2 linked regions of the Homo sapiens genome follow. The protein of the gene in region 1 binds, or shares a complex with, the protein of each later gene. Each region holds a gene or a part of one and is shown on either strand. Other genes may lie near its edges.

The links. Proteins that work in one complex are often made in the same cells at the same time.
Region 2: the proteins of BNIP5 (region 1) and BAK1 are in contact, whole or in part, in a crystal structure (PDB 8IGC), measured with the Homo sapiens proteins. Residues at the interface, in NP_001010903.3 of Homo sapiens: Ile246, Ile247, Gln248, Met249, Ile250, Val251, Leu253, Leu254, Lys255, Arg256, Val257, Gly258, Asp259, Gln260, Trp261, Glu262, Glu264, Gln265, Ser266; in NP_001179.1 of Homo sapiens: Leu78, Ile81, Gly82, Ile85, Tyr89, Glu92, Phe93, Met96, His99, Leu100, Tyr110, Lys113, Ile114, Ser117, Leu118, Ser121, Asn124, Trp125, Gly126, Arg127, Val129, Ala130, Phe134, Ala180, Leu183.

What each region holds. Positions count from the first base shown.
Region 1 is NC_000006.12:36,335,133-36,339,075, forward strand, and holds the start of BNIP5 (protein BNIP5), read right to left. Parts: upstream 1,757-3,943; 5' UTR 1,580-1,756; intron 1,544-1,579; exon of another isoform or gene 518-1,543; intron 1-517.
Region 2 is NC_000006.12:33,578,513-33,582,112, forward strand, and holds the start of BAK1 (bcl-2 homologous antagonist/killer), read right to left. Parts: upstream 1,765-3,600; 5' UTR 1,513-1,764; intron 1-1,512. UniProt on the Homo sapiens protein: Plays a role in the mitochondrial apoptotic process. Upon arrival of cell death signals, promotes mitochondrial outer membrane (MOM) permeabilization by oligomerizing to form pores within the MOM.

The DNA of each region.
Region 1 (3,943 bases):
CGGGAAGTTTGCTTGCCTTCCCCAAGCTTGCTGCTGTGTGTTGTTTACTTTCTAAGTTGCACGGTGACCTCATCTCTATGCTGTTCTCTAATTTGTTCACCTGGCCGCGTTACTCTCTAACTGCTCTGGTGCCTTTCATGGAGATAACTTCGCGGCTCCCCTTCTCCACCCCATGATTCACACAATAGAAACTTCACAGAGAGCCAACCTGCTGCACACCCACAGCAGCACCCTGAGGGACAGAGTGTGTGGCACACACACGTGGACCCACAGTCAACACCACAGACATCCACGTGTCACCAGAACACACTTGTGCACACCACAGACCAACATGGACTCAAGACGCCCTGTATTTCTCCTGTCCCAAGTGTAAGGGAATAATTATGTGACCAAGCTCACCGCTTGCCATCGGTCCTAACTCTAAATTCCATGAGAGGGGACCTGAGCCTGGGAGGCTCTCAGTGTTTGTGAAACAAACAAATGATACACAGGCATGTGCAAACCCAAACCAGCTCACCTTCATGCAGCCACACGGCGTCCAGAGAGCCGTTTCATTGACATGATCTCATTTCATCTTTGCCAGGAGCAGTGAATCAGATGGGCTAACAGTGGGGCACTGAGGCTCCGGACCATTAAGAGACACGCCCAAGGTCACATAGCCGGGAAGCAGAGAGCTGAGACTCTCCCACTTCTCCCGATTCAAATCCTACATTCTCTATTCTACACCAAATGGCCTCATGTAAGCATAGATACACATGCACGCACTTACACATGGACTTAGGGGAGAAACCTGCTATTTCACACTGATGGAGGTAATCACAGTCACATACACACCTACCATGACCTATGCACATGGAGTCACACAATCACGTGTGCCTAGGTATAGACACCCATGCCCTCCCCACCCCATTCTGTCCTCTATCCAAGACCACGGGCAATGCAACACTGTGTGAGGAGTCGGTCAGGACTGTGGGTTATAATCCACCTCCCAGCCTCTACATTCCCATCCAAGAGAGCAGTAGACCATGAGTTATTTTAATAAGATTTCCCCATTCTTGGACTAACTTCCAAAAACCTTAAAACTCATAGAACCTTAATTTAACCATAGGTCATAATAACACCTCTCATTTATCAGGGGGTTCCCTCATGTACCTTCACATAAAGTCTATAACTTGACCTCTACCACATCCTGAGGGAAACTAGCAGGTGAGCTATGTAATGCTGCCCCATCCTACAGACAAGAAAACTGAGGCCCAAGGAAGTGAAGTTCCTTGCTCAGGGTGGCGGCTAATAAGCAGGATTGGGACTTGAATACAGAGTTTTAAGTCCGAGTGAGCCCAGAGCCCTTTGAGAAACACCCCGTTGAGATAATGTCATTGAACCTTGCTCCCTCTTTTTAGAGATAAGAAAACTGATCCCCCACCTCCACCCCCATTGCCTCTCTGGGAGGGCCCAGCATGCTGGAAGCAGCATTGGGACTGGACTCTTGGTTTGACACCCAGGACTAAACTCTTCTCCGGACCCCAAGATACATACCCACTGCTCCCGCCCCCAAAGGAGAGGGTATTGTTCAACCAACCTTGGACCACAGAAATCGCTTCTGTCCTGAACACCCTGGGCTGGGATCTTCAGACAAGAGGTCTCTGTGTTAGGCTCTGCTCCCTGTCAGCTGGAAGTTGTGTCCAGTGAGAAGTCAGACCCAGCTCTCCCAGGGAGAAGATGCCACTACTTTGGTGCTGGCAATTTTCTGAGTGTCTCAGAAGATGCTTTGGCCGTCCATATATACAGTATCTCCCAGGAACTGAGCTCATGGCAGCCAATCCAGAGAGCCATGGGCTGGCTCACCTTCCTCCACCTGTTACCACCCATCCCAGGACTGCTCCCCGCTCCTCCAATGATAAGAGGCTTAGCTCAGCTACCCTGGAAAAAACAGTTTCACTTGTCAACTTCCTTATTGCACCCAAACCCCAGTAAGAAACCAAAGCTCAGAAAATAACCTAAGGTCTGGCTGGGGAAAACCCCACCTGTAGAGTTGAAAACAAGACTTAATGGGAAATGCAGGTTAGGGGGAGAAAGTCGAGGTGGCTTTATTGCCTTTACAACATCCCTCAGTTATCTTTGAAGATTAGTGGGGAGGGAGGTACCTAGAAAGAAAGGTCAGCGATGGGATACATACATCCCTTGACCTGGAGACAACCCAGAAGGAAGAGCCCACAAGAGCCACGTGTTCCAGATCTGCTATGCCCGGGAAGGGTTGCCATGGATCTTGAGAGAACATTCTAAGAAGTCTTAAAAAGTCAGATTTCCACTTTCTGTAATGCCTTATTTTAAAAAATAGAGTGTAAATACATGTTTATAATCAGAAAAGAAAAACATGTTTTATTAAAATGAAAGCAAAGGCCGGGCACGGTGGCTCACACCTGTAATCCCAGCAATTTGGGAGGCTGAGGCAGGCGGATCACCTGAGGTCAGGAGTTCGAGACCAGCCTGGCCAACATGGCGAAACTCCATCTCTACTAAAAATACAAAAATTAGCCAGGTATGGTGGCAGACACTTGTAATCCCAGCTACTTGGAAGGCTGAGGCAGGAAAATCACTTGAACCCAGGAGGCAGAAGTTGTAGTGAGCTGAGATCGTGCCACTGCACTCCAGCCTGGGTGACAGAGTGAGACTCTGTCTCAAAAAAAAAAAAAAAAAAAAAAAGAAAAAAAAAGAAAAAAATATTAAGAAATTCTGTTTTGGTTCATTAACACAGGGAGGCATCACAAAATATATATGGAAGCACCAAACTTTGGAGTCAGCCCCATCTGGAGACACCTGCCAGCTGTGTAACCACAGCAGGGGACATGATGTCACTGAGCTTGTGCTCACTTATAAAACAAGTAGTCATCTCAGAGGGTAGTTGGGCCAAATGCGATAATGCTTACAAAGAAAAGAAGAAGGCCAGGCATGGTGGCTCACATCTGTAATCCCAGCACTGTGGGAGACCAAGGTAGGAGGATTGCTTGAGCCCAGAAGTTCAAGACCAGCCTGGACAACATAGTGAGATCTTATCTCTACTAAAAATTTTAAAAATTAGCCAGGCATGGTGGCACATGCCTGTAGTCTCAGCTACTCAGGAGGCTGAGGCAGGAGGATTGCTTGAGCCCAGGAGGTCAAGGCTGCAGTGAGCCATGATCGTGCTACTGCACTCCAGCCTAGGCAACAGAGTGAGATCCTGTCTCAAAGGAAAAAAGAAGAAAGGAAGGAAAGGAAGGAAAAAAAGAAGGAAAGAAAGGAAGAAAGGGAGGGAGGGAGGGAGGAAGGAAGGAAGGAAGGAAGGAAGGAAGGAAGGAAAAAGAAAGAAAGAAAGAAACAAAGAAAGAGAAGGAAAGGAAGGAAGAAAGAGAAGGAAAGGAAGGAAGGAAATGTATGGAGTGCCAGACATCTTTCTTTCTGTGTATTAACAGTGCCTGGTACTTGTAAGGGCTCAATAAAGGGCCAATGTTTTATTACGGGCAACAGAGTTATTAATGCTTCATTCATTCTGTCAACAGGTTTTGGATCCAGCTATGTGACAGACACTGTCTCAGCACTAAATTTAGAATTTATTAGTCCAAGAAGTCACTCAGCCTTCAAACAAATGTTAAATAATATTACATATTTTTCATTTATTTAATGAAACTATTGTGTCAACCACTTCTTCCAGGCCCTGTGTGTATTGTATGTGTTCTTTCTTATTCCAAGGTGAATATGCCCAGCCTGGCCCAGCCCTCATGGAGTCCATAAAGTAGTTGGGAAGAGAGAAACACACAGAGAAAAATCATACAAGCAAGCAGAAGGGAATAGGAAGTTGTTTAATGCGTACAGAGTTTCAGTTTGAGAGGAATGTGGTACCACTACCTCCACCATTCAACCATCTCCACAACTTTTGAGATGTGGAGGATTTTCACAAGGCACACTC
Region 2 (3,600 bases), 2.8 Mb from region 1:
GCAACTTTCCCTATTTACCTCCTGTCTGTGCCTTCCCCACTGCTGCCTTGCAGTGACCGGAGGGAGCCCTCAGGATCAGGGCCTTCTTTGAAGCCCCATAACCTGCCTCGTACTCCCACCACACACCTGGTCTTCTGTCCCCGGCCCCAATTTTCCTCTTTGCCTGGTCCTGACCGCAGCCCCAACCTGCTGTGACCCCTCATCAGGGCGAGTGTTTCCTGGATGTCAGCTGTTTCACTTTCAGTTTGCACCCCTCCCAGAGCCCCATTTCCCCAGGCAGCCTCCAGCCCTCAGAAGGAGAGCGCCCTCCTCCTATCCCAGAGGGAGGGGGTGTGCAGCCCCACCCTGGGCCAAGCACACAGCCCCACCCCCACCGCCCAGGGCCTGGGGACCTTCGCCCACCCTCCTTCCGCTAGGCCTGGGAGTGTTTTCGAAAGTGCCCCAAGAGCTCTCAAGAAGGGGTGGAGGAGGGCTGGACCACCTGTGCCCTCACCCAGCTCCCCACTCCTCCTCGATCTGCCGGACAGGGACAGGGTGAAGGCAGACCTTCCTCTCCTCCACCTCTAGGGGCAAGGCCTTGTTAAAACAGAACTTTGCAGCCGGGCATAGTGGCCCACGAGGTCAGAAGTTCAAGACCAGCTTGGCCAACATAATGAAACCCCATCTCTACTAAAAATACAAAAATTAGCTGGGCATGGTGGCGTGCGCCTGTAGTCCCAGCTACTCGGGAGGCTGAGGCAGGAGAATCGCTTGAACCTTGGAGGCGGAGGTTGCGGTCAGCCGAGATTGCGCCACTGCACTCCAGCCTGGGCAACAGAGCGAGACTCCATTTCAAAAAACAAAAAAAAAGAGTTTTGCTTGCCTCCCACCCCCCGTAGCTCCTTACATAAGATGGCCTTCCTTCTTCCCCAGTCTCCAGGACCCGGCACCCCCAGGACAGTAGGGCTGGAGGATGCTGACTGCACCTCCAACTCCCTCTACCAACACCCCAGGCTTCCGAGGGGAGCAGGTAGAGCCTCAGAACACCCACCAAGGCCAGCAACCTATGCTGACTCAGGCCTAGCTCTGCCTCCCCCATCCAAGTGGCCTAAATTCCCGGTGAGGGGAGCCACCCCCGACTTCCTGGGCTTGCTGGGCCCCGATGAATGTTGCCCAGGGATACATGCCTGGCCAGGCCCTGGACCCAGTCTAGGGATGTTGGGCAGCAGCAAGCGCTGAGAAAGTTCTCTCTCTGCCCTTGACCTTGGCTCTGACCTCCACTCCCATCTCCCAGACTGTTAAAGGACCCAGTTCTTACAGTTCTCCGGCATCCAGGGCTGGGCCAAGAGGGGAAGCTGTGAGGGGCAGCCAGAGGCAGGCATGGCAGGATCAGGTCCCCAGCCGGGGCGGCAGACCTGCCCAGGGAAGCCTTGAGCTTCCCCTTCCCCACCCGGCTCCCGGCAGGCTCCCTGCCCCACCCTGGGGCTGGGGCTGCTGAGATCTGGGAGGATGGACAAGACCCTTCCAGCTTACCTGCCGGGATCCTGGCCCAACCCGGGTGGCTCAGCAGGGTGGAGATGGAGGTCCCGAGGGGCTGGCGGCTGCTGCTCCCAGGGGCTGAGTGGGAGCCCAGTTTCCAGGAATGGGCGTCAGTGCATTCCCGGCATCTGGATGTAGCCTTTACTTGTCCCTGTGCAGCCCGAGGGACCCGCGAGACTCCAGTGATCATAGAGGTGCCAGCGGCACCCGGCTCCAATCAGCTCCCTCTAGAGGAAGTTGCTCTGTGGCCACCGGATGCAGACGCACAGGCCGACAGCCTGTAGGGTGATCTGGGTGGGCCAGGCCCAGGAGCATGTCCCGCCCACTTTCCCCACCCCACCTCCCAGGCAGGCAGGGCGGCTGTCAGTGGCCCACTGCTTTTCCCATCCCTGATTCTCAATCCTTGTCTTTGATCTTCTCCCCCACCTCTACATCAATCAATACCAATAAAAAACCCAGGGTGAGAAGTTTCTTAAGCACTGCTGCATGCCTGGCACTTTAGCAACTATTTGTCTCATTGGATCTTCTCAGCAACTCTTGTAAGTGAGTGCTGTTGACAATACCCATTCAGATGAACAGAGGCTCAGCTGGGTTAATCATCAGTTCTGGGCCAGGCGCGGTGGCTCACGCCTATAATCCCAGCACCTTGGGAGGCTGAGGCAGGCAGATCACGAGGTCAAGAGATCGAGACCATTCTGGCTAACATGGTGAAACCCCGTCTCTACTAAAAATACAAAAAATTAGCTGGGTGTGGTGGCGGGCGCCTGTAATCCCAGCTAGTTGGAAGGCTGAGGCAGGAGAATCCCTTGAACCTGGGAGGTGGAGGTTGCAGTAAACCAGGATTGCGCCATTGCACTCCAGCCCTGGTGACAGTGCAAGACTCCATCTCAAAAAAAATAAATAGTAATAATCAGTTCTGTAGTCGCATTGGGGAATACTAATACTAGATTGAGATTCAACCTGCAATTTAGACCTGTGCACCATGCACCTTGGTGGTCTCTGGATGTTTGAAATCCTGAAGGTGATAGTCAAGTAAACGGAGATTAAAACTCAATAGAGGCTGGGCCCAGTGGCTCACGCCTGTAATCCCAACACTTTGGAAGGCTGAGGTGGGAGGATTGCTTGAGCCCAGGAGTTCAAGACCAGCCTGGGCAACAAAGTGAGACCATGTCTCTACAAAAAAAAATTAGAAATTAGCTGGGTATGGTAGTGCACACCTGTGCATTTGGTGGTCCCAGCTACCTAGGAGGCTGAGGCAGGAGGATCACCTGAGCACAGGAAGTCGAGGCCACAGTGAGCCATGTTTGCACCACTGCATTCCGCCCTGGGCAACAGAGCAAGACCTTGTCTCAACAACAACAAAAAAGGCAGCCAGCTGCGGTGTGTCACGCCTAGAATCCCATCCCAGCCATTTGGGAGGCCAAGGCAAGAGGATCGCTTGAGGCCAGGTGCAGGAGTTCCAGGCCAGCCTGGGCAACAGCAATACCCTGCTTATACCAAAAAAAAAAAAAAAAAAAAAAAAAATTAGCAAGGCATGGTGTTGTATGCCTGTGGTCTTAGCTACTGGGGAGGCTGAGGTGGGAGGATTGCTTGAGCCCAGGAGGTCGAGGCTGCAGTAAGCTATGATTGCACCAGGGCAACAGAGGGAGAGTCTGTCTCTAGAAAAAAAAAAAAAAAAAAAAAAAAGGCCGGGCACGGTGGCTCACGCCTGTAATCCCATCCCAGCACTTTGGGAGCCCGAGGCAGGCAGATCACCTGAGGTCAGGAGTTCAAGACCAGCTTGCCTAACATGGCGAAACCCCGTCTCTTTTAAAAATACACAAAAGGGAGGCCAAGGCAGGTGGATCACCTGAGGTCAGGAGATTGAGACCATCCTGGCTAACATGGTGAAACCCCGTCTCTACTAAAAATACAAAAAAATTAGCCGGGCATGGTGGCAGGCGCCTGTAGTCCCAGCTACATGGGAGGCTGAGGCAGGAGAATGGCGTGAACTCAGGAGGCAGAGCTTGCAGTGAGCCGAGATCACGCCACTGCACTCCAGCCTGGGTGACAGAATGAGACTCCGTCTCAAAAAAAAAAAAA